Linked DNA regions of Homo sapiens. The protein of the gene in region 1 purifies or fractionates together with the protein of each later gene. This does not show direct contact. Each region holds a gene or a part of one and is shown in the gene's direction. Other genes may lie near its edges.

Evidence for each region.
Region 2: the proteins of ELK4 (region 1) and MTMR14 purify together in Homo sapiens (affinity purification with mass spectrometry; one large-scale study listed by BioGRID and IntAct). This does not show direct contact.
Region 3: the proteins of ELK4 (region 1) and ROCK1 purify together in Homo sapiens (affinity purification with mass spectrometry; one large-scale study listed by BioGRID and IntAct). This does not show direct contact.
Region 4: the proteins of ELK4 (region 1) and IVNS1ABP purify together in Homo sapiens (affinity purification with mass spectrometry; one large-scale study listed by BioGRID and IntAct). This does not show direct contact.
Region 5: the proteins of ELK4 (region 1) and MYO1C purify together in Homo sapiens (affinity purification with mass spectrometry; one large-scale study listed by BioGRID and IntAct). This does not show direct contact.
Region 6: the proteins of ELK4 (region 1) and TCF25 purify together in Homo sapiens (affinity purification with mass spectrometry; one large-scale study listed by BioGRID and IntAct). This does not show direct contact.
Region 7: the proteins of ELK4 (region 1) and CLNS1A purify together in Homo sapiens (affinity purification with mass spectrometry; one large-scale study listed by BioGRID and IntAct). This does not show direct contact.

Annotation. Positions count from the first base shown.
Region 1 is NC_000001.11:205,618,273-205,622,515, reverse strand, and holds part of ELK4 (ETS domain-containing protein Elk-4), read left to right. Parts: intron 1-1,677; coding exon 1,678-2,550; coding exon of another isoform or gene 2,551-2,688; exon of another isoform or gene 2,689-3,248; intron 3,249-3,442; coding exon 3,443-3,559; intron 3,560-4,243. UniProt on the Homo sapiens protein: Involved in both transcriptional activation and repression. Interaction with SIRT7 leads to recruitment and stabilization of SIRT7 at promoters, followed by deacetylation of histone H3 at 'Lys-18' (H3K18Ac) and subsequent transcription repression.
Region 2 is NC_000003.12:9,694,110-9,698,352, forward strand, and holds part of MTMR14 (phosphatidylinositol-3,5-bisphosphate 3-phosphatase MTMR14), read left to right. Parts: exon of another isoform or gene 1-1,416; intron 1,417-3,601; coding exon 3,602-3,757; exon of another isoform or gene 3,758-4,101; intron 4,102-4,226; exon of another isoform or gene 4,227-4,243. UniProt on the Homo sapiens protein: Lipid phosphatase that specifically dephosphorylates the D-3 position of phosphatidylinositol 3-phosphate and phosphatidylinositol 3,5-bisphosphate, generating phosphatidylinositol and phosphatidylinositol 5-phosphate.
Region 3 is NC_000018.10:20,950,960-20,955,202, reverse strand, and holds part of ROCK1 (rho-associated protein kinase 1), read left to right. Parts: coding exon 1-36; intron 37-158; coding exon 159-420; intron 421-1,417; coding exon 1,418-1,625; intron 1,626-3,815; coding exon 3,816-3,819; 3' UTR 3,820-4,243. UniProt on the Homo sapiens protein: Protein kinase which is a key regulator of the actin cytoskeleton and cell polarity.
Region 4 is NC_000001.11:185,298,066-185,300,986, reverse strand, and holds part of IVNS1ABP (influenza virus NS1A-binding protein), read left to right. Parts: coding exon 1-15; intron 16-428; coding exon 429-550; intron 551-643; coding exon 644-770; intron 771-856; coding exon 857-988; intron 989-1,103; coding exon 1,104-1,277; intron 1,278-2,698; coding exon 2,699-2,921. UniProt on the Homo sapiens protein: Involved in many cell functions, including pre-mRNA splicing, the aryl hydrocarbon receptor (AHR) pathway, F-actin organization and protein ubiquitination.
Region 5 is NC_000017.11:1,482,687-1,486,929, reverse strand, and holds part of MYO1C (unconventional myosin-Ic), read left to right. Parts: intron 1-798; exon of another isoform or gene 799-875; intron 876-1,169; exon of another isoform or gene 1,170-1,218; coding exon of another isoform or gene 1,219-1,236; intron 1,237-1,355; exon of another isoform or gene 1,356-1,805; coding exon of another isoform or gene 1,806-1,808; intron 1,809-2,626; coding exon 2,627-2,782; intron 2,783-3,204; coding exon 3,205-3,320; intron 3,321-3,870; coding exon 3,871-4,069; intron 4,070-4,243.
Region 6 is NC_000016.10:89,897,295-89,901,537, forward strand, and holds part of TCF25 (ribosome quality control complex subunit TCF25), read left to right. Parts: intron 1-1,262; coding exon 1,263-1,355; intron 1,356-1,472; coding exon 1,473-1,578; intron 1,579-3,340; coding exon 3,341-3,500; intron 3,501-4,243. UniProt on the Homo sapiens protein: Component of the ribosome quality control complex (RQC), a ribosome-associated complex that mediates ubiquitination and extraction of incompletely synthesized nascent chains for proteasomal degradation.
Region 7 is NC_000011.10:77,623,706-77,627,948, reverse strand, and holds part of CLNS1A (methylosome subunit pICln), read left to right. Parts: intron 1-2,130; coding exon 2,131-2,232; intron 2,233-2,878; coding exon 2,879-2,986; intron 2,987-4,243. UniProt on the Homo sapiens protein: Involved in both the assembly of spliceosomal snRNPs and the methylation of Sm proteins.

The DNA of each region.
Region 1 (4,243 bases):
AGGCTGAGGCAGGAGGATCACTTAAGCTCAAGTGGTTGAGGCTGCAGTGAGCCATGATCACACACCACTGCACTCCATGAGAACCCTGTCTTGTTGGGGAGAAAAGTCATATATGTACATATACACACACACATATATCTACATATATACGTTTTATATCTTAATTTTTAGTTTTAGTTTAACCCAGGGAACACAAATTAAAACCTTATACCTTAAGTAGTAGCTGTTTATACACAGAGTTGGTTTTTTAGTTAAAATTGCTGAGATCTTAATTTCTTTCACTTTTTTTTGTTTGTTTGTTTGAGACGGAGTCTTGCTCTGTTGCCCAGGCTGGAACACAGTGGCGTGATCTCAGCTCACTGCAACTTCTGCCTCCCAGGTTCAAGTGATTCACCTGCCTCAGCCTCCCGAGTAGCTGGGACTACAGACATGCACCACCACACCTGGCTAATTTTTGTATTTTTGGTAGAGATGGGGTTTCACCATCTCTACGGGAGGCTGGTCTTGAACTCCTGACCTCAGGCAGTCCACCTGCCTTGGCCTCCCAGAGTGCTGGGATTACAGGCGTGAGCCACTGTGCAGGGCTCTTTCACCATTAAGTGGTTGATCTTACCAGCTTTCCTGTCTGGAGATAAACTGGAATTTCTGAAGGAAGTAAGAACCTTAACAGATACTATGTTCTAAATTCCTTTTTCACAGCCGGGCGCGGTGGCTCACGCCTGTAATCCCAACACTTTGGGAGGCCGGGGTGGGTGGATCAGTTGAGGTCAGGAGTTCAAGACCAGCCTGGCCAACATGGCAAAACCCCATCTCTACTAAAAATACAAAATTAGCTGGGCATGGTGATGTGTGCCTATAATCCCACCTACTTGGGAGGCTGAGGCAGGAGAATTGCTTGAACCCAGGAGGCAGAGGTTGCAGTGAGCTGAGATCACACCACTGCACTCCAGCCTGGGTGACAGAGTGAGACTCCATCTCAAAAAAATAAGTAAATAAATTCCTTTTTGCTTACTCAGGATGTGTATGGCTTATACCTTTGGAATTGTTTGAGACTGCAGTTCAGGGAGTTCTAATCTGCACAGATATTTGGTTGAGAGTGGTAAGCAATTAAAATCCTTCAGTTTTTATGTAACATATTAGTTCAGTTGTTAATAAGACATTTAAATGTTCTTGCCTTAACTTCTCCATAATAGTAGGGACTGTGTTTGGTATGGCTAGATGAATTTAGGTGATTTTGAAAGTTTTAAGTAAGTGATGTCTACTTCTAAAATGGAGAACCTCATTACCAGCTTTTTCTTTTTTTTTTTTTTTTTTTTTTTTTTAAGACAGACTCTTGCTCTGTCACCAGGCTGGAGTGCAGTGGTGTGATCTTGGCTCACTGCAACCTCCGCCTCCCGGGTTCAAGGGATTCACCTGCCTCGGCCTCCTGAGTAGCTGGGACTACAGGCGCACGCCACCATGCCCTGCAAATTTTTTCTGTTTTAGTGGAGACGGGGTTTCACCATGTTGGCCAGGCTGGTCTCAATCTCCTGACCTCGTGATCCGCCCTCCTCGGCCTTCCAAAGTGCTGGGATTACAGGCATGAGCCACTGTGCCTGGCCGATGCCAGCTTTTTCATGAACTATGGGATATAAGTTTATAAGAAAGGATAAAAATGCTTTTTTTTTTAACCTACAGAATATCATCAAAAAAGTGAATGGTCAGAAGTTTGTGTACAAGTTTGTCTCTTATCCAGAGATTTTGAACATGGATCCAATGACAGTGGGCAGGATTGAGGGTGACTGTGAAAGTTTAAACTTCAGTGAAGTCAGCAGCAGTTCCAAAGATGTGGAGAATGGAGGGAAAGATAAACCACCTCAGCCTGGTGCCAAGACCTCTAGCCGCAATGACTACATACACTCTGGCTTATATTCTTCATTTACTCTCAACTCTTTGAACTCCTCCAATGTAAAGCTTTTCAAATTGATAAAGACTGAGAATCCAGCCGAGAAACTGGCAGAGAAAAAATCTCCTCAGGAGCCCACACCATCTGTCATCAAATTTGTCACGACACCTTCCAAAAAGCCACCGGTTGAACCTGTTGCTGCCACCATTTCAATTGGCCCAAGTATTTCTCCATCTTCAGAAGAAACTATCCAAGCTTTGGAGACATTGGTTTCCCCAAAACTGCCTTCCCTGGAAGCCCCAACCTCTGCCTCTAACGTAATGACTGCTTTTGCCACCACACCACCCATTTCGTCCATACCCCCTTTGCAGGAACCTCCCAGAACACCTTCACCACCACTGAGTTCTCACCCAGACATCGACACAGACATTGATTCAGTGGCTTCTCAGCCAATGGAACTTCCAGAGAATTTGTCACTGGAGCCTAAAGACCAGGATTCAGTCTTGCTAGAAAAGGACAAAGTAAATAATTCATCAAGATCCAAGAAACCCAAAGGGTTAGAACTGGCACCCACCCTTGTGATCACGAGCAGTGATCCAAGCCCACTGGGAATACTGAGCCCATCTCTCCCTACAGCTTCTCTTACACCAGCATTTTTTTCACAGGTAGCTTGCTCGCTCTTTATGGTGTCACCATTGCTTTCATTTATTTGCCCTTTTAAGCAAATCCAGAATTTATACACTCAAGTTTGCTTTCTGTTACTTAGGTTTGTCTTAGAAAGGTTATGTGTGACTGTCATGTGAAAGTTACCCCATTTCTCATCTTAATTAGGATTGCTAAAATAGAAAGTTTGGAGTATTTTCTTAAAAAATTCATTGTTCTACAAGTAAATAAATATTTTGATTTTTCTATTTCCTCCTAAAGAAAGTACACACACTCTCTCGCTCTCTCTCGGTCTTATAAAACTCGTTGGTGTCTTATAAAACAAACAGTGATAATCTCAAGTTAGAAAACAGTAGGTCCTGAGAACCATAAGAAAAATGACTGGTGTGATGTTGAGTAACAAGTTGGTACAGTTACTTTAGCTATTTATTAACTTGCTCATCTCATAGAACATTTTAGTAGATTTTTCACACACCTCATTATTAAAAAAAAACAAACATGCTGGTGTCTTGGTTACCCATTATTCCTCTGTACCTGAATTCAGGTTGGTTTTTCTATTTGGAAAAGACTTTATAAATGTTGGCTTAAAAAGAGGTTGAGCACCAGAATCTCAGAATTTACCACCAAAGAACTCATCCATGTAACCAAAAACCACTTGTACCCCCAAAAACTATTGAAATAAAAATTTAAAAAATTTTAAGTAGTTATTATCACCTTTATCCCTCTTAGTTTGTAAAAATAATTTTTGAGTTTTGTCATGATAATATTTCAGACTTGGAGATATTTGGAGTGGAGGATAGGGCAATATTTAGGTTTGGGTTATTTGTGTGCTGTTTCAAGGATAAAACATCCTGGTAAGTCAGTCAGTGAATATTTTTGCTTTGTGTATTGCAGACACCCATCATACTGACTCCAAGCCCCTTGCTCTCCAGTATCCACTTCTGGAGTACTCTCAGTCCTGTTGCTCCCCTAAGTCCAGCCAGACTGCAAGGTGCTAACACACTTTTCCAGGTAATTTTATAAATATCTGTCTTCTGTAGTTGGAGCATGTTAAATGAAGAAAGAGGCAAAAAGGCAGGGTCCCACTATTCAGTTTAATCATTATAAAACTTCTATTTAATGAATATTCTTTTTTTATTTTTTTGAGATGGAGTCCTCACCATGTCACCCAGGCTGGAGTGCAGTGGCATAATCTCAGCTCACTGCAACCTGCACCTTCCAGGTTCAAGCGATTCTCCTGCCTCAGCCTCCGGAGTAGCTAAGATTACAGGTGTGCAACACCACGTCTGGTTGATTTTTGTGTTTTTAGTGAGACAGGGTTTGACCATGTTGTCCAGACTGGTCTCCAACTCCTGACCTCAGGTGATCCGCCCACCTTGGCCTCCCAAAGTGTTGGGATTACAGGCATGAGCCATTGTGCCCTGCCCAATGAATATTCTTTAGATTTATTTTTGAATTTCCAAATATTAATTTTCTAGCTGGCAAACAGCTTGAATAAATATAGCAAAGTTTCATTTTCATTATTTACTATTACATACATTTGAGTTAGACCAAGAATTGTTCAATACTGTAGGAGATTTAGAGCCTACCCCAAGTTTTTGTCACTAGAAATTCTCTATTTAAAAAAAAAAAATGGGCCAGGCAGTGTGTGTGTCATGCCTGTAATCCCAGCGCTTTGGTAGGCCGAGGCAGGAA
Region 2 (4,243 bases), on another chromosome or scaffold:
CTCCCGTTGGAGGTTACGTGGTGGTCCATGAACCAATTTCTGAGTCACCCACCCCTTATCAGGAAGAAAGATGAGTATATTATCAGCAAGGGCTTTGGTCAGACCTGGGTTTCCGTCGTAGCTTTGCAGTCCTAGCTGTCTGACTTGGAAAAATCACTTCCTTTCTGAGCTCAGTTATTTTATCCTGTTTTTAAAGGGGGAAAAATGATTCAGGCCCCCCTCCCGTAAGTTTGGGTTAAAATGAAATAATGGGTTGGGCATGGTGGCTCATGTCTGTAATCCAGCACTTTGGGAGGCCAAGGTCAGAGAATCGTTTGAACCCAGGAATTCAAGACTAGGCTGAGCACCATAGTGAGACCTTGCCAATACAAAAGATAGATTAGATAGATAGATTGGATGGATGGATGGATGGATGGATGGATTGGGATGGACTGGGATGGACTGGGATGGATGGAGTAAATACTCATAGTAGATACCTTTTCACGAATGCTCAGTAAACTGTAGCTGTGGTTAAGGACTTGGCCTTAGTCATTTGTCCGAGAGCCTGTAGGCTCTGTCATGGCACTAGGCAGCTGCGTAAAAGGCCAGGCCTCCATCCCGACCTGTGTATTCTTGCCTGGGTTGAGCCAGCTCGGTTTGTGTGAGTATTCTTGTACCCCCTTCCAGAAAGGACTAGCTAAAAGACACCTGCTCTGAGTTGGCCATCAGCAGGGCATCGGGGGAGTTGGGAGCCGGTAGGAACTGCAGCTCTGGGTGCTGTGAAGAGGGCCCTGAGCCGCATCCAACTAAGGAAGTGAAATGTTGCTGAGCTCCCACCCTCCTAGGCAGAGGTCTGAGCCGCTGGGATGTGGACAGGTGACCTCTGAAGCGTTGTTCAGCTCCGCCACCATCCAGTTTGAGGGTTGCTTGGTCCCATGTTCTCTCCAGTCCTGTAGTGGGAGAGCAGAGGGGGTGGAGCTTGGATCCCTCTGTTTGCTGCTCAGGGCAAAAGACTTTGGGCTCTTGTTGAAGCTGGTTAAGTTACCTGTGTTCTTAGACTGACTGGAAGGCTTTTCCTCCCTTCTCAGTATGTGGGCACAGGTCCTTACTCCCGGTGACATGATGCACTGTAGGTGTCCCCTGCAGCCAGCTAATCCATGGTGGTATTTGTGAACACCTTCCTGCTTAGCATGGCCCTTTGCTCTCAACCCCAGGAGCTGAATGGTCACTTTGTAGCCCTTCCTTTGACAAAGGCCTCACGTAGGAAGACTCCTTTGTAGCCAGTGTGCTCACTCTTGAAAAATCCCAGAGTCTGCAGAAGATGGCTGCTTGCTGAGAGATGCTTCTGTCCCCTGGGATCACACACCCTGCTGCTGTCTGTGCTGCCTAATCCATCCGACAGCTGCTGCAAGTGCGGTTCTTGGCCGGTGTTACCTACTGAGACATGGGGGAAGTAAAGGGAAGTGACAAGCCCAGGGGACCTGGAATCCTTGAGGGGAGCCAGTCAGTAACTCCATCCCATTGGTCATGTTTCCCTTGCCAGTGTTACTCTTTGGCTCTTGGGGAGTGGTTTTGGGGCCTGAGAAACTTCCCCATGCTCCCAGCCCCAGCTGTGCCTCAACCTAGTCAGCATCCCTTCCATTCCCTCAACATTCTGGTTTTTAGCTGTTGTTTTCCCACAAGCTGCTAGAACTGGAAAAGATTCTACCCTGCAGCTTGAACAATAGACGAGATTTGTGGAGCTAGGATGCATCTCAGGGTTGTGCCGGCTGAAGGCCTGGTGTGACCTGGAGGGGGCACAGGGCAGGCTGCTCCTGGGGAGCTGTCTCTTTGATTTACAGACTGCCTGAGCCCAAGTTTCTCCATCTAGAAACAAGGAAGCCCTGCTCTGTCGGGCCCTAGGGGCTTCCGTCAGGTGACAGACCATATCCCGTTCTCATCCCTAATGCTGCCATCACGCACCTTCTAGAGTTTAGCAGGAATGATGAATGTGACAAGTCTGTATGTTGTAGGGGGTTCCGATTTATGGCAGCCTTAACATAGAAAACCATCTGTTTTCCCTGGTCCCAAGGTGGTTCTGTTTCAGGACAAATGTGTAATCATTCTTGGTTTTAAAAATCTCTTCTCAGCCGGGCGCACTGGCTCACGCCTGTAATCCCAGCACTTTGGGAGGCTGAGGCAGGCGGATCACCAGAGATCAGGAGTTCAAGACCAGCCTGGCCAACATGGTGAAACCCTATCTCTACTAAAAATAGACACAAAAAAATTAGCCGGGCATGGTGGCGGGCGTCTGTAATCCCAGCTACTTGGGATTACAGTTGGGAGGCTGAGGAGAATTGCTTGAACCCAGGAGGCAGAGGTTGCAGTGAGCTGAGATCACGCCACTGCACTCCAGCCTGGGCGACAAGAGCAGGGAAAAACAAAAACAGAAACCTCTTCTCACACTGTCTAGCTGTGATACCTCAAGCAGGTGTCTTCACCTGTCTTACAGATGGGGATGGTTAAGGATTGCCAGAGTTGCAGTGCCTGGCTGGCTGCACTCCAGTGGCAGCTGCTTGGGGATAAGACTAGCACGGTGACCAGTCGGGCTGTCACCTCAGACTAGGAGCCCTTGACATCAGCCAGCTGGGGGAGCCAAGGGCAGTGAACATTTTTCTCCACCCCCAATCCCTGCTCTTCATTCCTGTTTCTGGATCCCTACTGGAGTACCTCCTGCTGTTTTTGGATGAAAGAATAAAGGGTCAAGCATCAAAGATGATGTCCTGGGGACTGGGACCTGGGGTAGCAGGTGGAAGGGCCTTGTTTGATGTCTCCCTATTGCCTCCCCGACCCACACTGGCTGGACTACTGCCCAGGACAGAAGAGGGGGGTTGGCTGTGAGTGGGGAGGAGGTGGAAGCGGTAGATTCCCAGCACAACCTTCTTCCTCCCACCCCCAAAACCTCCATCTGAAGAAGGCCTGAGGAAGCTGTCAGGCTGCCTGCCTGATTCATCCCTTCCCTCTGGGCATAGCCACTGAGTCTGCTGGGCTGATGCTTCTGAATACAAACTATGGCACCTGGAAGGCACTGCAGAGAAAGGGGGGACCTCAGGGCTCCCATTCCATCACTCTTGAGTCTAGGTCATACCCTCCACAATCCCCAAGAGGCCCGTACTGTCTCTTCTGATGGGACTCCTGGGTTCTGTGTTGCCCACCCTGCAAATCTGCATGCCAGCAAGTATGGGTGACCCGGCTGGCTGCTGGGTCACCTTCATTTGGGTGCTAGCCTTGCTGCCTTCCTTTGGTGCTGTTGAGATTGTCCTTGCCGTGTTCACTCCCAGCGCAGGCATGCCCTGGCCCCAGGCTGTGGCTCCGATTCACTCTTACTGCCATGCTTTGTTCTCATTTTTTGCTTCCACAGTAAGTCTGCACAAAATACTGTCCTCACAGCTGAGCTTACCTGGTGATCTATTCTTTTTTCTCGGTCACTACTTGTCCAGCTTTTTTTTTTAGACTTTTGGAGACAGTGATTGACAACAGAACCTAGCAGCCAGGGCTGCGCTAGTCCCCTAGCCCCCTCCAGAGCCTGTGTCAGGCATATGACTGACTGCATCCTCTCCCCTCTCTCTCCTCTCTGCCCCAGATCAGTGGACCATCCCCTGCCCGGATCCTCTCTCTCCACAGACTATGGCAGCTGGCAGATGGTAACGGGCTGTGGCAGTATTCAGGAGCGGGCTGTCCTGCACACAGACTCCTCTCTCCCTTTCAGCTTCCCGGATGAGCTCCCTAACAGTTGTCTGTAAGTGTCTTGCTTGAGAAGGCAGGATGCTCCCCTGCCCATGGGAAAAGCTGGTGAGCAGTCAGGAGTGCTGGGTAGGAATGAGGCTGGCGCTCAGGAGCTGGCCTGGCCTCCTGCCCTCCCCTCTCTCAGCTGCTGGACCCGAGGTATGAAGGAGGCCTGTGGCTGGTCAGGAAGTGCACTGGTTTGTGTGTTCACTCTGCAGCCTCTAAAACCCATCCACTGGTGTCTCAGGTGCACCCAAAGGGAAAGCTGCTGGACTGTAACTATAGAAGATTCTATTTCTGTATAAGCCTTTGCCTGACATGAGAATCGTTTGAAGGCAGAACAGTGGGATAGTGAAGGTAGGTGTATGGTGGAGGCCAGAGCCAGAGTGGTGCTGGGTTAGCCCGAAGCTTTGCTCCTGAGCAGAACCTAGGGTTACTTGCTGTCTCTACCCGCCTTGTCTTCTGTTTTTGCCTCTGGGCAGGAATAAGAATTGGATGG
Region 3 (4,243 bases), on another chromosome or scaffold:
AGAGCTGAAACTGAAGAAATTCCTAAAATATTCCAGGTAAAAATCTGAAGTTATAATTTTAAAGAATCTAAGTCCTAAGCGTTTTTGTGAAGTAAATGTAAAATATACCAATGCTTAAGATTTTTAAAATCTTTTCCTTTCACCATTCCTGAATGTAGATACTATATGCAAATGAAGGTGAATGTAGAAAAGATGTAGAGATGGAACCAGTACAACAAGCTGAAAAAACTAATTTCCAAAATCACAAAGGCCATGAGTTTATTCCTACACTCTACCACTTTCCTGCCAATTGTGATGCCTGTGCCAAACCTCTCTGGCATGTTTTTAAGCCACCCCCTGCCCTAGAGTGTCGAAGATGCCATGTTAAGTGCCACAGAGATCACTTAGATAAGAAAGAGGACTTAATTTGTCCATGTAAAGGTAAGGCATGGTAATTATTGTTACAACTTATAACAAATTTAATTTTAAGTCTCAATGAACTAACTTATGTGTAGTGATTTCTATACCAAGTTGAAAAGAGATTATAGAAAGTATTATTTTGACACTGGTGGGGCAATATGCAGCTATTTACAGATTTAGCTTTTAAAAATGTTTTTATTTATTTTTATTGATTGACTGATTGATTGAGATGGATTCTCACTCTGTCTCGCCCAGGCTGGAGTGCAGTGGCGTGATCTCAGCTCACTGCAGCCTCTGCCTCCCAGGTTCAAGTGATTCTCCTATCTCAGCCTCCTGAGTAGCTGGGACTATAGGCGTGTGCCACCACACCCGGCTAATTTTGTATTTTTAGTAGAGATGGAGTTTCACCATGTTGTCCAGGCTGGTTTCGAACTCCTGACATCAGGTGATCCACCCACCTCGGCCTCCCAAAGTGCTGGGATTACAGGTGTGAGCCATTGCACGCCCGGCCAACAGTGTTTTTAAAGAGAATCACCCCCTTGTAAACAAACAAAAACAAACAAACATGCTGCTAAGAAATTATTCCAAGTTGGAGAGAAGAGCAACAGGTGAGTTCCACTCTATTCCTCCCTTGAGTTTTTCCTCTTCTTTTTGTCTGGCATTCACTGCCTGGATCAGCATGCATGCTGTATCACAGAATATCTTCTAGTTTTACAGAGGTAGCTTGAGGGAAAGAATACAGACCATAGCTATTTTCAGATAAGAAGCTTATGTTCTTTAAATACATTTATTTGTTTTACATTTTGTTATATTTCTGATTTTACTTTATTAGTTTGACTAATTTTTTTTTTTAATTTCAGCCTTATTTAACTTAAGGAGAATGAGATATTGTTCATGCTTAATTAAGCATATTAAAACTTTTAAAACCTTAAGAACTTGAAAAACTATGCATTTGATAGGTTGGATTTTAAAAAACTATATGGCTTTAATTATGCTTTTTTTTTCCTCCTTAACATAGTAAGTTATGATGTAACATCAGCAAGAGATATGCTGCTGTTAGCATGTTCTCAGGATGAACAAAAAAAATGGGTAACTCATTTAGTAAAGAAAATCCCTAAGAATCCACCATCTGGTTTTGTTCGTGCTTCCCCTCGAACGCTTTCTACAAGATCCACTGCAAATCAGTCTTTCCGGAAAGTGGTCAAAAATACATCTGGAAAAACTAGGTAAGGATTTGAAATGCTAACGTTTTTAACAATGTGAAAATGATTGGATAACAGCTATTAAAATCAGAAATCTAATTGTGCTTTTCACCACAGAGGGCATCATTTTTAGGTATTTGTATGTGAATTGCAGTGACTTTATAAATTAGTTTAACTTATTCTTGTTAGAGTTTAATAATAATAATACATGCAATATTATATTTATTTAGTTCTGTGTCTAATTTTATTGTCATAAGTTGCTGTACATGGCATAGTTTTAGCCCTTAATGCTTTAACCAACTTAATTTTTTTAATGCAGAAATTCATATAAAACTTTTCATCATCTTTTCTGTTTTTTAACTGTGTTGGCATAGTTTTTCTACAAAAACCAAAATTGTTTTTCCCTTTTTTGTTAACTTCCCATACTATCCCAACATACAAAATTATTTGGTATTATCAGTGACTATGTTTTTTTAATTATTATACTTTAAGTTCTGGGATATATGTGCAGAACATGCAGGTTTGTTACATGGGTATACACGTGCCATGGTGGTTTGCTGCACCCATCAACCCATCATCTACATTAGGTATTTCTCCTAATGCTATCCCTGCCCTAGCCCCCCATCCCTCGACAGGCCCTGGTGCGTGACGTTCCCCTCCCTGTGTCCATGTTTTCTCATTGTTCAACTCCCACTTACGAGTGAGAACCTGTGGTGTTTGGTTTTCTATTCCTGTGTTAGTTTGCTGAGAATGATGGTTTCCAGCTTCATCCATGTCCCTTCAAAGGATGTGAACTCATGACCCCCTTTTTTTTTTTGTTTTTTGAGACAGAGTCTCACTCTGTCACCCAGGCTGGAGTGCAGTGGTGGCGCTATCTCAGCTCACTGCAACCTCCACCTCCCAAGTTCAAGCAATTCTCCAGCCTCAGCCTCCCAAGTAGCGGGGATTACAGACGCATGCCACGCCTGGCTAATTTTTGTATTTTTAGTAGAGAGAGGGTTTCATCATGTTGGCCAGGCTGATCTCAAACTCCTGACCTCAAATGATCTGCATGCCCCAGCCTCCCAAAGTGCTGGGATTACAGGCGTGAGCCACCATGCCTGGCTGTTTAACTATTTTTGATGGACTTTTTTCCAAAAATATGTTTTATGCCATGATAAACAATTATAAGGCATAACCATTCATTCATTCATTCATTCATTCATTCATTCATTCATTTTGAGACAGAGTCTCGCTCTGTCACCCAGGCCAGAGTGCAGTGGCGCAATCTCAGCTCACTGCAACCTCTGCCTCCCAGGTTCAAGCTATTCTCCCACCTCAGCCTCCTGAGTAGCTGGAATTACAGGCACATGCCACCACGGCCTGCTAATTTTTGTATTTTTAGTAGAGATGGAGTTTAACATGTTGGCCAGGCTGGTCTTGAACTCCTGACCTCAGGTGATGCACCTTCCTGGGCCTCCCAAAGTGCTGCGATTACAGGCATGAGCCACCGCACCAGGCAGTTAACTCTTTCTTGGAGAGAAATAATGAAATCTCATCTCATTAAGTTCTCATTTTACACATTAGTAAATAAGGCTCAGAGAAATTAAGCAGTTTGCTCAATCACACAGCCAATGGATTGGAAACCATTTCTGTCCAATTCTAAAGCCTATGTTGTCCAATTCCAAAGCCTCTATTCTACCACATACCACCTTCCCTAGAGTGTACTCCCTAGATTAATAGGGCCACTCGAATTAGAAGCTGAGACCTAACACTGATTTGCCTCGCTGCCAATGTCACCTACATCTTCCAAGCAGGCTTAAAGCCATCTTGAATTCATCCCTTTTGTTCATGCCCTATTGTCAGTAACCAGGCCTAATTCTTTGAAATGACTTATATCCTTTCCTTTCTCAGCCACCATACTATGCCAGGTATTATCACCTTACTGCTAACTTAATTCTGTAGAATGCTATGTCAGCCTTCTCCTGAGCATAGGTTGTAAACTGGATCTAAAATGATTTGAAATGAGATTATAGCTGAGTAAGAAAATGTGTAGAAACAAAGAGGAGAGAATACTAAGTATATTTTTCCTATTCCTTGTTTTCCAAATTTTGTGTAATTGTTAATTATTTTATGTAAAGATAATGTATATTTACCTTTCCTCCTAATGTTTGTTTCTTGTATTTTTAAACTGAGTGCATTTCTTAAATTAGTTTTTTCCCCCTCCCTCAACAGTTAACCATGTGACTGAGTGCCCTGTGGAATCGTGTGGGATGCTACCTGATAAACCAGGCTTCTTTAACCATGCAGAGCAGACAGGCTGTTTCTTTGACACAAATATCACAGGCTTCAGGGTTAAGATTGCTGTTTTTCTGTCCTTGCTTTGGCACAACACACTGAGGGTTTTTTTTATTGCGGGTTTGCCTACAGGTAGATTAGATTAATTATTACTATGTAATGCAAGTACAGTTGGGGGAAAGCTTAGGTAGATATATTTTTTTTAAAAGGTGCTGCCTTTTTGGATTTATAAGAAAATGCCTGTCAGTCGTGATAGAACAGAGTTTTCCTCATATGAGTAAGAGGAAGGGACTTTCACTTTCAAGTGGAACAGCCATCACTATCAAGATCAGCTCATGGAAGGAGTAAAGAAAATATCTCAAAAT
Region 4 (2,921 bases), about 20 Mb from region 1:
AACTCATAGCTGCAGGTAAGAACAGAAGCATTCAACTGGCTAAGCATGTAGATGGGCATTTTTGTGACATGCAAACTTTCAAAGAGAGGGTTTAATATGCCATCTTTCACGGCAATCCAATAAGATAGGGAAATAACAATACTATTGAATATGGCTAACCTTCAGTTCAATGTCTGTATCTAATTTTTAAAAAAATTATGTCATGGCTAAATTTTTCTAATATTCAAGCCAAGACTAAGCAGTTTATTTGTACTGATAATGCGATTTTTCAGCTATTACAAGCACTTAGTTAAAAGATCAACTAAGGCATCCTTAAAAAGTTTTAATACTTTTTCTCATTGTGCAGATTTCTTAAACTTACAGGACTGGAAACCGTGGTCCAGTTTAATATTTTAAACATAAATCTTTATGGTTTTATTTTTTACCAGGTGGCTATAACAGAGAGGAATGTCTTCGAACAGTCGAATGCTATAATCCACATACAGATCACTGGTCCTTTCTTGCTCCCATGAGAACACCAAGAGCCCGATTTCAAATGGCTGTACTCATGGTAAGCGCATTATGTTGCAGGAGCAACCCCTATTTAGCTTTTTCCTCGTAACTTCAGGATGTTAGAAATTCTCATCTCTCACTTTTGGCATAGGGCCAGCTCTATGTGGTAGGTGGATCAAATGGCCACTCAGATGACCTGAGTTGTGGAGAGATGTATGATTCAAACATAGATGACTGGATTCCTGTTCCAGAATTGAGAACTAACCGTTGTAATGCAGGTAATAATAGTTTTCTCCTGAGATATCCAGTATTTAAATATGATAATTAAATTATCAATATGTAACTTTATTTTATACTTACATAGGAGTGTGTGCTCTGAATGGAAAGTTATACATCGTTGGTGGCTCTGATCCATATGGTCAAAAAGGACTGAAAAATTGTGATGTATTTGATCCTGTAACAAAGTTGTGGACAAGCTGTGCCCCTCTTAACATTCGTAAGTTGATTTTTTTTCCTTTTTTTTTTTAAAGACCTTCAAATCAACAGTATGTGTAGTATACACTTAGAGTCTGGGAGATGTAGCAATAATCTTGACTTGACTTTTCTTGTAGGGAGACACCAGTCTGCAGTCTGTGAGCTTGGTGGTTATTTGTACATAATCGGAGGTGCAGAATCTTGGAATTGTCTGAACACAGTAGAACGATACAATCCTGAAAATAATACCTGGACTTTAATTGCACCCATGAATGTGGCTAGGCGAGGAGCTGGAGTGGCTGTTCTTAATGGTGAGTGTTGGGATTTGGAGAGGTGAAGAGTAGATAGTGGCAAGACTTTGTTCTAAAACTCTGAGAGAAAAGGCCAATGACTATAGTTGTACAGTTAAGAATTCAGAAGCAGTCATCTCTTTTGATGCAATGGAGATTAGGGTGATTTGTCCTTTAGAAATATATTTTCTAATCAAAGACTTATAATACTTGATATATAACTTAATTCACCAGTCTTTTGATGGGTGCACTGAGTGAATTTCCAAGTCATTTTCTTCTATAAAACATATCCTTAATGCATCATCTTGAATTTTGAGTTTCCCCTTCTTTACAGCCAGAATTTAAAGAATCTGATCTGCAAAACAAAGGCAAATCCCTAGTCTTTTCCAACTGTCTACTCCATACCTAATTGGAAATACAACCTTTAGACTATTTTAACAAGTTTCCAAAGTATTAAACTTTTTAAATGTAGACATAGCTTTCTTTCCACCTCCATTTTATTGACTTTTAATGTCTAATTATATAATCATAATTTAAAAGTTAGCATTGTTTTTGGTACCAGGCTGAACCTTAGCAGGCTTATGGCTCAACTGGTGAAGGCTTAAGTGTAGACACAGCCTGTTGGCCTAGAGCATTGTCAGCGTGCTTTACAGATACATAGAATGCAAGCTGGTTAAGTGATGGTCAAATGAAAAAATAATGAATTTGAGAATCAGTAATAAAATTTTTTCTAAGCTACGGAGTATTTATTGCTAACATTTTATCTATTTGAAAATAATCATAACTCTGTTTCCAGAAGAAATTTCTGTACCACAATCATTTTATTTTTTTAATTGAGACATGGTCTCACTGTGTTGCCCAGGCTGGTCTCGAACCCCTGGGCTCATGCAGTCCTCCCACCTCAGGCTCCCATAGTATTGGGATTATAGGCATGAGCCACCGCATCTGGCCCCAAAATCATTTTATACAGTTGGAAAGCCCTAAGATATTTTTCTGCTTTCCTATAATCTCTTCTGAGTCTTAATTCTGTACATTGGGCTGATATAAAGTCCAGTGCACAGAACTATTCTGGTTTGCTACTTAGTAGCTGCATCTGTAGGATAATTGTCCAGCTTCTTCCTGCTTTTCTTCTTCTCTGAAATAATAATAGTAACTACCACAGAGTTGGTGAAAATTGTACTTATTTAGATGCTGCTACTGCTTCCTCTCCCTCCCCCTTTTAAGTTGCCTAAGTTCCACGTGGGAATGGTTTTTTTATTGATTTGATTCCCAGCTCTTAGAGAGTATTTGTCATATTAGGCATTTAATAAATTCTTTTTGACAAAATGAACAGGCATTTCTATTTTTAAAACCACTGATTTTTAAGCAAAAGACAGATTTAGGGGAGTTTTACCTTATTACACTTTAATCTCTGGATTTACCCCATCTCATTTCTCTTTTAGGAAAACTGTTTGTATGTGGTGGCTTTGATGGTTCTCATGCCATCAGTTGTGTGGAAATGTATGATCCAACTAGAAATGAATGGAAGATGATGGGAAATATGACTTCACCAAGGAGCAATGCTGGGATTGCAACTGTAGGGAACACCATTTATGCAGTGGGAGGATTCGATGGCAATGAATTTCTGAATACGGTGGAAGTCTATAACCTTGAGTCAAATGAATG
Region 5 (4,243 bases), on another chromosome or scaffold:
TGGTGCCCGCAGAGCCAAGCGAGGGAGGTTCTGCCGAGGCCGCTTCGGAGGTGGGGGGCGTCCCGGAGATCCGGAGGGACTAGGGAGGCCCCCTTCAAAGCAGGGAGGGAGATGGGCCGGGCGCGATGGCTCACGCCTGGAATCCCAGCACTTTGGGAGGCCGAGGCGGGTGGATCACCTGAGGTCAGGAGTTCCAGACCAGCTTGGCCAACATGGTAAAACCCCGTCTCTACTAAAAATACAAAAATTAGCCGAGTGTGGTGGCGCACGCCTGTAATCCCAGCTACTCGGGAGGCTGAGACAGGAAAATCGCTAGAACCCGGGAGGCAGAGGTTGCAGTGAGCCGAGATCGCGCCACTGAACTCCAACCTGGGAGCCAGCGCAAGACCCCGTCTCAAAAAAAAAACAGAAAAAAAAAGGAGGGAGGGAGGAGGTCCGGGCCCAGAGGCGAGTGGGGTGTCCCGGGTGGGGAGAGGCTGTGGGCCCCAAATGCCGTGGGCGGGGGGGACGCGAATTTCCCAGAGGGGGAACTGAGCCCTCCAGAGGGGCCGGGTACTCCGCGCGCTCGGCCAGGGCACCCGTTGGCCGTCCCTGTCCCTGGGGCGCGAGCTCCGTGCTGACGAGGAAAACCAAGATCTTCCTGGGTTCGAGGCTCGGACCAGGCCCCGGCGCGTGTGGGTGGACGGCGTCCCGCACGGAGAACGCTCCGCCCGCCGGGCGCGCCGGCCGTATTTGGACATTGGTTCTATTTTTAACTTTCCCGGGACTCGAGTTCGGGGGTTGGGGGAGGAAAATCCCGCTTCCTCTGGGACCCGCAGGCCTCGGTGCCCGCCCAGCGCCCAGGCCCGCCGCGGAGTGTAGTCCCAGGCCCGGAAGTGAGTTCCGGGTCGGTGTAGACGCGGCGGCCGCGCGGGTTCCGGGCTCCACCCTGGTGCCAACGGCGTCCCTCCTGGAAAACCTGACTCAGGCGGAGCCCGCCCCCGCCCCCGGCCCGCGGACCCCCCGCCCCGACACCCCCACCTCCACCAACCCCACCTGGAGGGGACCCCAGCCCGGCCGCGCGGGAGGCGGGGGAGGCCGGGGAAGCCCCGCGCTTCAGGGGCCCGGGTGGGGGCGGTGCGGGGGGCGGGCCCTCCCTCGCTGACGCCGCCGCCACCGCCGCCGAGCCCGGGACCCGGAGCGCGGGCAGCGGAGCGGGCGCCAGGCCGGCCGGGCAGGATGCGCTACCGGGCGTCGGTGAGCCTGGGGGCGGCGGGGCAGGGCGGGGGGTCCCGGGCGTCCCTCCCCACCTCGCGGCGTCGCCTCGGCCTCGCCAGGAAGCGGGCGCGGCCCAGGAATTCCGGGTGGAAAAACGTCCCGGGAAGTTGCAGGGGGAGGAGGCCGAGGCGGGGAGGGCGGCGCGGGACGCTCGGACCCGGGGCCGGATGAGGAGCCGCCGGGGACGCCTGAGAACGCGGAGACCCCTGACCCGAGGGCGAGGGGGCGGGGACCGCGGCCGGATTTGGCAGCCGCTTCGGCGCGGGATTGGAGCGGGGCGGTGAGGACAAGCCTGGGAGGGGCAGGCCCCCGGCCAGAAATCTGGGCCTTTCGTGGTCAGAGGACACCGGCGGCCCCTTTGGGATCCACCCCCAATCACCACCACCTTGTTCTTCTCTGACCCTGGATACTCTGGGTGTCCATTTTTTGGAGCCCTGAGACCCTGTTTGAAGAGGGATCCATCTCAGCCCTGGTTGTGGGGCGAGGGTCTTGCTCAGCCTGCACCACCCTCCACCCTCCAGTAGGACCCAGAGGCAGCTGGGCTTTCCATGGTAAAGCCCCCATCCCCTGAGGCTTCTCAGGACTCTCAGTGGAGGAGGTGCCTGGGGAGCCCAGCAGCTGGAGGAAAGGGAGTGGCCCCAGCCATGCGAGGGAGGGCCTCCCCCGCGTTCTGGAGTGGGTGGCTGAGCCCAGCTGGGGTGGGAGGCCCTCTGGGGGAACCCCTCTGGTGTAGTCTGGGAGTAACCTCTTGCTTGGTGCTCGACGCTCTACCGGTGGAGGTGGGGGTGGGTCTGGGTGGGAGAGACGGCCCCACCCTGCCTGCAGAATTGACCCTGAGCCATTTGTCCTCCAAAGCACCTGTCACACGTGGCTCAGAGCTGAGGGACCTGAGGTCACCTGGTCTAACTCAACTCCTCCTCCTTTAGGAGGAAGGAACCAGAGAGAGGAGGGGATTGGTCCAAGCTCAACAGAGCAGTCTTTCTGCTATTTCAAGGAGTTCCTTCTTGTGACCCCCCCTTTCTCCACCCAAAACCAGCACCTCCCGGGTTCTGCCCTCTGGTCCTGCCTGCGTCCATGCCCTGTGTCCGAGTCCCAAGTGGTTCATGTTGTCTCTGTTCTGTGCCCGCAGCCTCGGTGATCCCTCTGCTGCCACACTGGGACCCGGGCCCTCCACACCCGGCTTTCCGCACCCGGCCCACCACACCCAGGCCCTCAGCACCCAGGCCCCCCGCACCCGTCATGCTCATGTCCCGTGTCTAGCCCGGAGTCCACAAGCCCCTACGTTCCCTCTCAGTCCCACAGGCGCAGGGAAGTGGCCTTGCCCCGCCCCCGATGACTCTGACCCTCTTCTGTGGCCCATTCTCTGCAGGCCCTGGGCAGTGACGGGGTTCGGGTGACCATGGAGAGTGCGCTCACCGCCCGTGACCGGGTGGGGGTGCAGGATTTCGTGCTGCTGGAGAACTTCACCAGCGAGGCCGCCTTCATCGAGAACCTGCGGCGGCGATTTCGGGAGAATCTCATCTACGTGAGGCCCTTGTGGGGAGATGGCAGGGGTGCTGGGGTCACAGACACAGGCAAGCGGAGGGGAAAGAGACACCAAGGGTCACCGGGATAAACTTTTTTTTTTTTTTTGAGACAGTTTCACTCTTGTTGCCCAGGCTGGAGTGCAGTGGCGCGATCTCAGCTCACTGTAACCTCCTCCCCCCGGGTTCAAGCGATTCTCCTGCCTCAGCCTCCCGAGTAGCTGGGATTACAGGCACCCGCCACCACGCCCGGCTAATTTTGTATTTTTAGTAGAGACGGATTTCTCCATGTTGGTCAGGTTGGTCTTGAACTCCCGACCTCAGGTGATCCGCCCACCTTGGCCTCCCAAAGTGCTGGGATTACAGGCATGAGCCATCGCACCTGGCCCGGGATAAACTTTGGACCCTCTTCCCCCGATCCCAGACCTACATTGGCCCCGTCCTGGTCTCTGTCAATCCCTACCGGGACCTGCAGATCTACAGCCGGCAGCATATGGAGCGTTACCGTGGCGTCAGCTTCTATGAAGTGCCCCCTCACCTGTGAGTGACCCCAGCCCCTCCGGGAGCGACCCCTCTGTCTCCATCTGAGGTGACCCCGCCCAACCCTTACCTTACTCTGAAATGATCCTGGCGTCCCGCGCCACATCTGTGAGGAATCCCACAGTCTCTTGCCCCCCAGTGACCAGAGATGAATGTCGCAACTCAGCTCCATGTGGGTGGGACTCAGTCCCTACCCCGACTCACACCCATGACTTATTCCCCAACTGGGAGTGGCCCCCCAATCTTAGTGACCTCTGAACCCCACCTGCAAAGACCCCCCCCAGCCCTACCCGTGAGTGACTCCAGCCTCCACCTAAGTGACCTCCAGCCTCCCACCTGTGAGAGCCTCTCAGTCCTCCCGCTGGCGGTGACGCCCATTCTCAGCTATGACGGATCTCCCATGGCCCACACCTGTGAGGGACCCCCAGTCCCCATCCTCAAGGGTGTATTCGACTCCCACAAGAGGACTCCACCCAGATGTGGGAGCGGGACTCTCGTGGGGCTCTGCTTGGCCCCCCTCCCCAAACTCCCTGACGAGCCTCCGCCCCAGGTTTGCCGTGGCGGACACTGTGTACCGAGCACTGCGCACGGAGCGTCGGGACCAGGCTGTGATGATCTCTGGGGAGAGCGGGGCAGGCAAGACCGAGGCCACCAAGAGGCTGCTGCAGTTCTATGCAGAGACCTGCCCAGCCCCCGAGCGCGGAGGTGCCGTGCGGGACCGGCTGCTACAGAGCAACCCGGTGCTGGAGGTGAGGGGCAGGGAGAGAAGCCCAGTGCCAGTGCGGGAGGGGAGGGGCAGGGAGAGAAGCCCAGTGTGGGAGGGGAGGGCAGGGAGAGAAGGCTAGTGTGGGAGGGGAGGGGAGGGGCAGGGAGAGAAGCCCAGTGCAGGAGGGGAGGGGAGGGCAGGGAGAGAAGCCCAGTGC
Region 6 (4,243 bases), on another chromosome or scaffold:
AGGCCTCGCTGGTCAGACCTAGACTGGCTTCCGCCAGGCCTTCCCGCAGCCTGTCCTGTGGGCCCTTTGTGGAGCAGACCAGCTTCTGTCCGCTGTCCTGCCTCTCCTGTGTGCAGTGCCCTGTTTCTCTGGCCGCCCTGGGTTGTCTGCAGTGTGGGATCCGCTCCTACCCTCTCAGCCCTCCTGGCAAGCCAAGGTCCGCTGACCCGTTCTGCACAGATTGTCTGCACTGTGTGCTGGGTCTGAATTTCCTCCACTGGTTTTCTTTATGTTAGTTTTGTCTCTTCCAATGAAATTCTTAGTTCTTTGAAGTAGATTATAAAATATTAATATTTCCCGACGCGAAAGAGACAGTGGGCTGTTGATGGAAGTAGCAGCCCACCAGCATCCGAAAGTCACAGGGCTCCATGTATCCAGCCTGAGTGCTGTTAGCCACTGTTGAGATTGGAGGATAAATTAAGATCGTAATTGTAACAAGAGATTTTAACTCTCTTCCTGTAAATGATAAATAATAAACAAAAAAACAAGATAAAGATTTCAGCGGGGCGTGGTGGCTCACGCTTGTAATCTCAGCACTTTGGGAGACCGAGGCAGGTGGATCACAAGATCAGGAGATCGAGACCACGGTGAAACCCCGTCTCTACTAAAAATACAAAAAATCAGCTGGGTGTGGTGGCGGGTGCCTGTAGTCTCAGCTACTTGGAGAGGCTGAGGCAGGAGAATGGCATGAACCCAGGAGGCGGAGCTTGCAATGAGCCGAGCCGAGATAGCGCCACTGCACTCCAGCCTGGGTGACAGAGCGAGACTCCGTCTCAAAAAAAAAAAAAAGATTTCAAAGAAGTTTGATTTTCAGTATGCAAATTCGTGTATAACTCTGTAAAGGACAAGGAGAGCGCACACCTCCTCTCCAGACATGGATCTCTGTGTGCTGGGCACGTAGAAAATGCCAGCAGAACCCAGAGAGCAGAATGGGGGTGGAGCGGGTGCTGACCGGGGCGCTAAGCAGTGTGTGGGGTGGAGCGGGTGCTGACTGGGGCGCTGAGCAGTGTGTGGGGTGGAGCGGGTGTTGACTGGGGCGCTGAGCAGTGTGTGGGGTGGAGCGGGTGTTGACTGGGGCGCTGAGCAGTGTGTGGGGTGGAATGGGTGGTACTGGCCAGGACGCTGAGCAGAGGGCGGGGTGGAGTGGGTGCTGGCCGGGGCGCTGAGCAGAGAGCATTCTCCTTTGTGTCGTTGTAATTCATGTGGAACTATTTTGGATCTAGGAGCTTCTACCTGGCCCTCTACAAGCAGATGAGCTTCCTGGAGAAGCGAGGCTGCCCGCGCACGGCGCTGGAGTACTGCAAGCTCATCCTGAGGTGAGTGTCTGCTCAGGGCCAAGCCCGTCCACGCTCCCTGTCCTGGCTGCAGGCCCACTCTCAGCCTGACGATGCCCCTGTTCCCCTTTGCTCTGCTCTCTGTGCTGCCTCCGGAAGTCTCGAGCCGGATGAGGACCCCCTCTGCATGCTGCTGCTCATCGACCACCTGGCCTTGCGGGCCCGGAACTACGAGTACCTGATCCGCCTCTTCCAGGAGTGGGAGGTGGGTGCGAGCCTGGTGAGGCCCCGTGGAGGGACGGACACCTGCTTCTCCTTCTGTTTTCTTGGTTCAGTATCTGTGCGCTCAGGGGACGTTTGGGGATGAAACGATAATCGTCTGAGGGCAGAACCACGTCCTCCTGCCTTGTTTGTCTCCCTTGCCGCCTCTACGGAGTGGAATGTGGTTTTCCTAGGGACAGTACAGCAGCCTTATGTCAGAATCCTCATACGTGTGTACACATGCTCAAACGTGTGTACACATGCACACGTGTGCCTGCAAGGACTGTGATGCTGGTAATGATGAAAAACCGACAACTCCCGAGCTCCTCATGGGCAGTTCAGGAAGATGCAGCCGGGAGGTAGAAGGAGGGTTGGTTGCGTGGGGCTGACACAGGGACCCCCAGCACGTCTGTCCTGTTCCATGGGAAGAGTGTGAGTACAGCAGGAGAGACTTGAGCTCTGTCCCCAGTAACTCTAACACAGACACGTGTTGGAATGATAATTTCGGTGTATTGGGTTAGATATAACGTATTAATCTCACCTGTTTTGTCTTTAATGCAGCTCCCAGAAAATTTAAATTGGGCCGGGCATGGTGGCTCACGCCTGTAATCCCAGCACTTTGGGAGGCCGAGGCGGGCGGATCACCTGAGGTCAGGAGTTTGATACCAGCCTCAACATGGAGAAACCCTGTCTCTACTAAAAATACAAAATTAGCTGGGCGTGGTGGTGCATGCCTGTAATCCCAGCTACTCGGGAGGCTGAGGCAGGAGAATCGCTTGAACCTGGGAGGTGGAGGTTGCGGTGAGCCGAGATCGCGCCATTGCACTCCAGTCTGGGCAACCAGAGTGAAACTCCGTCTCAAAAAAAAAAAAAGAAAATTTAAATTGACACCTGGGCTCCCATTATGTTCCTATGGGGCAGCACTTATCTGGAAGGACACGGGCTTTGTAACGCTAACCTCCAGCAGGGCCTGGGGCTGGGGAGAAGGCGACAGCTCTTGACTTTCTCTGCTTCTGTGTTGAATTTTTTTCATAGCACATGTTCATGGATAATGAAAGTGGGTAAATTATTTTGAATTTTTAAGCATTTGGCATAGTTGGCCAGGAAGTCTCACCCCCAGGAATGTGGTTTATAGAAATTCCTGGAGCTCACAAAAATGTAGGTGCAGGGAAACCTCAGGGAGTCCCCCAAAATGGGGCTGCAGAAGAATGTTGATGATGGTGTTTAAGGTCACAAAACTGTGAGTCTGTGATCCCATTTTGATAGAAAAAAATGCAGTGAGTCACATGTCTACAATATGTGACATAGGCTGAGAAAGGCAAGAGAAACTGGCACGGTGGTAGACTGCTCGGAAACTCGCGTGGCGGGCTGCTCTCGGAAACTCGCGCGGCAGTGGGCTGCTCTCACAGACTCGCGCGGGGGTGGGCTGCTCTCGTCTGTAAATTTTCCACATTGAGAGCACCAACTGCTCAGCTTCAGAGAGGAGCCTGGGCGGCAGGTGGGACCCTCACTCCCCACGGTGTCCTCGCTCCGGCTCAGTCTACTTCTCAGGCCCTCCCACGTCCTCTGTATCTTCTGCATGCGGAAAGCCCCCCAGGTGGACGTTTTAAGTTATCTTTATGCTGAGTTAGGAAGAGGCCCTTGCGTTGCCTGCAGAATATACCTGCTCGGGGTAGGGCTCACTGGTGATGTCAGAGCGTCTGCAAACTCACATATTTTGTCTTTATGACTTAAGGCTCCACGCTCTGTTTCTTCGTCCCTCGTAGGCTCATCGGAACCTGTCCCAGCTCCCTAATTTTGCCTTCTCTGTTCCACTGGCGTATTTCCTGCTGAGCCAGCAGACAGACCTCCCTGAGTGTGAGCAGAGCTCTGCCAGGCAGAAGGCCTCTCTCCTGATACAGCAGGCGCTCACCATGTTCCCTGGAGGTGAGTGAGCGCTGTGTCTCGCCTGGGGTAGGGGTGTGTCCTGTCAGCCGTGGGGGCTGCTCTTCCTGGTGGTGGAGGCCAGGTCCCAGTCCTTCCCCACACTTGTAGAAACATGCATTCTCTGGTAGGGCCTGCAAACCTGCCCTACCAAACCTGAAAGAGGGTCGGCTCATCTCGGAACCCGCTGCGTGCCAAGCCAGGCACGAGGAGGTGGCAGGCATCCCGACCCCCGTGGGGCCTGTGTTCTAGAGTGCAGAGACAGAACTGGCTGGGAGGTGCGGGGCATTGGATTGTACCAGTGCTGGGGAGGAGAGCAAAGCAGGGGAAGGTCTCGGCAGCGCCGAGGTGTGGCCGAGAGGGTTGTGCTCTGCACCATGCTGGGATGCAGAATGGAGGCCTGTGCCGCCCAGATGGACTCAGCCTGCACAGCCGTGACCCCTGACTGCATCTGGGTAGCTTCGATCCACGCACATGTGGCGGGCACAGTGAGGCTGCCACCTGGTCAGACCTCGGGGCTGACCCTGCCTGACAGCATGTGTGAAATCCCTCTTTAAGATGGGCCTCCTCCGAGGAGCTGTGAGGGGTGAGGGTGAAATCCCTCCTTAAGACGAGCCTCCTCTGAGGGGCTGTGAGGGGTGAGGGTGAAATCCCTCCTTAAGACGGGCCTCCGGCCGGGCGCGGTGGCTCACGCCTGTAATCCTAGCACTTTGGGAGGCCGAGGTGGGCGGATCACGAGGTCAGGA
Region 7 (4,243 bases), on another chromosome or scaffold:
GAGGCTGAGACATGAGAATCACTTGAACCCGGGAGGTGGAGGTTGCAGTGAGCTGAGATCGCGCCACTGCACTCCAGCCTGGGCAACAGAGCAAAACGGTCGAAGAAAAGAAAAAAAAGTAAGAACTCTGTCATTAACTTGCTAGGCAAGTCATTTGCATTTCTCTGAGCCTGAATTTCATCCAAAAAGTTAAGGGAGTATATTAGTCTCTTGTTCCCAAACTCAAGACTAATGGATACACATTAGAAATACATGGGAAGCTTGTTTAAAATGCAAATGCTCTGAGTCCTAAACTAGGAAAAAGCAGTTCAGTAGGTTTTAGGGTGTGTGTTTTAAATATGTGCTCTATAATCATACAGAATCTATATGATTGGTTGTAATTGATGTGATTATGATTAATCCTTTCTTAGTAAGATATGCAGGATTTCCTATCTTACTAGAAATTAGTATCTTTCTGGGTCACATTTATTTCACTAATTCTCCAGTTCCTTTTTTTTTTTTCTTTTTTTTTGAGATGGAGTCTTGCTCTGTCGCCAGGCTGGAGTGCAGTGATGCGATCTTGACTCACTGCAACCTCTGCCTCCTGGGTTCAAGCGATTCTTCTGCCTCAGCCTCCCGAGTAGCTGGGACTACAGGCTCCCGCCACCACGCCCCGCTAATTTTTTTTTTTTTGTATTTTAGTAGAGTTGGGGTTTCACTGTGTTGGCCAGGATGCTCTCCATCTCCTGACCTCATGATCCACCCACCTCAGCCTCCCAAAGGGCTGGGATTACAGGCGTTAGCCACCTCGCTTGGCCCTTTAGTTCTTTTTATCTTAAACTCCTCTCATAAATTACATGTGCTTGAATCATATTTTCCCAGCCTTTGTTCCTTGCATTCTGATTCTCTAAGCTCTAAGTTTTTTTTTTTTCTCTTTGGCATACCTCTGTAAGTCTCTTTAAAAATGACCATCAGGGCTGGGCGCGGTGGCTCACACCTGTAATCCCAGCACTTTGGGAGGCTGAGGCGGGCGGATCACGAGGTCAGGAGATCAAGACCATTCTGGCTAACACGGTGAAACCCCGTCTTTACTAAAAAAAATACAAAAAAATTAGCCAGGTGTGGTGGCGGGCGCCTGTAGTCCCAGCTACTCAGGAGGCTGAGGCAGGAGAATGGGGTGAACCCAAGAGGCAGAGCTTGCAGTGAGCCGAGATGGCACCACTGCAGTCCAGCCTGGGCGACAGAGCAAGACTCCGTCTCAAAAAAAAAAAAATGACCATCAGGACCGGGCATAGTGGCTCACATCTGTAACCCCAGCATTTTTTTTTTTTGTGATGGAGTCTCACCCTGTCACCTAGGCTGGAGTGCGATGCTGTGATCTTGGCTCACTGCAACCTCCACCTCCCAGGTTCAAATGATTCTCCTGCCTCAACCTCCTGAGTAGCTGGGATTATAGGCGCCTGCCACCACGCCTTGCTAATTTTTGTATTTTTAGTAGAGACGGGGTTTCACCATATTGGCCAGGCTGGACTCAAACTCCTGACCTCGTGATCCGCCCACCTCGGCCTCCCAAAGTGCTGGGATTACAGGCGTGAGCCACCGTGCCCAGCCACAATCCCAGCATTTTGAATGGCCAAGACAGGAGGATCACTTGAGCCCAGGAGTTTCAGACCAGCCTGGGCAACATCGTAAGACCCCATCTCAAAAAAACAAAAATTAGCAGGGTGTGGTGGCAAGTGCCTGTAGTCCCAGCTGCTTAGTAGGCTGAGGTGGGAGGATCGCTTGGGCCTGAGAGGGCAAGGGTGTCCAGTCTGGGCAACAAAACAAGTCCCAGTCTCAGAAAAAAAAGTTGACCCTTAGCTCATTGTTGATGAGATTAGATTACCTTAAAAATAACCTTAAAAATTCATTCCCGGTGAGGCGCGGAGGGAGCACTTTGGGAGGCCAAGGTGCGTGGATCTCGAGGTCAGGAGATCGAGGCAAGGCTTTTCTAGGATGCTCACTGTATAATCAGAATTTTTCAACCATAATTGGAAATAAATTTGTCAACCATAATTGGAAATTAAAATTGAATTGCAATATTCAGATTTTCAATATGCTTCATTTTTTTAAAGTCAAATAATGACATTAAAAGGGTATTTTATTTTCTAGAAGAATCAAAAGAACCTGTTGCTGATGAAGAAGAGGAAGACAGTGATGATGATGTTGAACCTATTACTGAATTTAGATTTGTGCCTAGTGATAAATCAGCGTGTGAGTGTTCTACAGTATTGATTCTTCCCCTTTTACATACCAAGCATTCCCAATTGACACACACACACATACACACACACACACACCTCTCACCTTTACCACCATTACCTCCATTCTATTGCTTTTTCTTTATTTTAGCATTGGTAATATCATTAAGGACCAAATACCTATTAATATCAAAGGTTGTGAATGTAGTGAGAATATTGTAGACACTCTGTCATCTGGGTATATTTTGTGAGTGGACTCTGGTTAGTTTTACTGATTGGTGCTGTTGACTTAATCTCACCTGCTGGATGGCAGAGGAGTTATGGCAGTTTTAAAGTGGAAGATCTCAGGATGGCTGGAAAGAGCCCTATCAGCTGAGAGCAGTCTTCACCCTTCACCCTGATGCCAGCAGTCTTACCAGGACTCTGACCCTTTTTTCTTGGAAAATCCCACGAGCCATGAAGAGATTGCAATGATCTCTCATAATGAACTCTTATTATTTTATGACTTGTCTTTTGCTTCAACCGCTTTCAAGATTGATCTTACAATTTGGCAGATTTTGTAAATACTGTGGCGTTTTGTGTACCCATTAAATTTATTTGCACTGATGGTTACTTTTATTACAAAAAAAGATTGGTTACAGTTTAATTTCCTTGTTCAGTGGAGGCAATGTTCACTGCAATGTGCGAATGCCAGGCCTTGCATCCAGATCCTGAGGATGAGGATTCAGATGACTACGATGGAGAAGAATATGATGTGGAAGCACATGGTTAGTGAAATGGATTTTAAAGTGGGTTTTTTGTTTGTTTAGTGTTTCATTTTAAGCATTTATTTGTATTAAGGGTAGAGGATTATAGTTCTTTATATGACTGTAAAGTATGCAGTATGGTAAAATTATTATTATTATTTTTGAGATGGAGTTTTCGCTTTTGTTGCCCAGGCTGGAGTGCAATGGCGTGGTCTCGGCTCACTGCAACCTCTGCCTCCTAGGTTCAAGCGATTCTCCTGCCTCAGCCTTCCAAGTAGCTGGGATTACAGGCATGCGCCACCACGCCAGGCTAATTTTGTATTTTTAGTAGAGATGGGGTTTCTCCATGTTGGTCAGGCTGGTCTTGAACTCCCGACCTCAGGTGATCCGCCTGCCTCGGCCTCCCAAAGTGCTGGGATTACAGGTGTGAGCCACTGTGCCTGGCTGGTAAGATTATTATTAAAATAGAATGACACGGTAGAACACTTTATGCCAAAGCCCTTTGCAACAGACAAATTTTTGAGTGTAAGAAATAGAGATTGTTATGGGGAAGAATGGGTAAGTAGAGCATATGGGAGGAAAGAAAATGGTAGATAGGGAAGTGGATGGTCAGGAAAGTCTTTTAAGCTGAGGCAGCTGCCCCCAGAGAACAAGCTTCTCTCTCTACACCTTGAGAACCTGGATCATTTATATTGTTTTATTATTACTATTATTATTTTGCAACAGGGTCTCACTCTGATGCCCAGGCTGGTGTGCAGTGGTGTGATTTCTGCTCACTGCAACCTCTGCCTGCTGGACTCAAATGATTCTCCCAGCTCAGCCTCTTGAGTACCTGGGACTACAGGCTTGCGCCACCATGCCTGGCTAATTTTTGTGTATTTTTTATAAAGACTGGGCTTTGCCATATTGCCCAAGCTGGTCTCCAACTCCTGGGCCCAAGCAATCCTCTGGCCTTGGCCTCCCAGAATGCTGGGTTACAGGCATGAGCCACCGGGCCTGGCCTGCATCTTTATTTAACATGTTCCTTCAAACAGCTCACTGCCAAGGTCATTTCTTTTTCTCAGAACCATACTTCATTTATTTAAGAGCCCTTTCCGATTGCCTCCCCCAGACCAGAATGCAGTCACTAGCGTGATAAGAGTCTTTATAGCTTGAAGTACCTGCTGTTCTCTTTTCTTTTCCCTACTGGTCTTATGTACACCAATCTGGGTATCCAAAGCCCTTTCCTTCATATGTACCCACTTCCTGGCCTGAGATAAACACATTTCTGGGATCCGC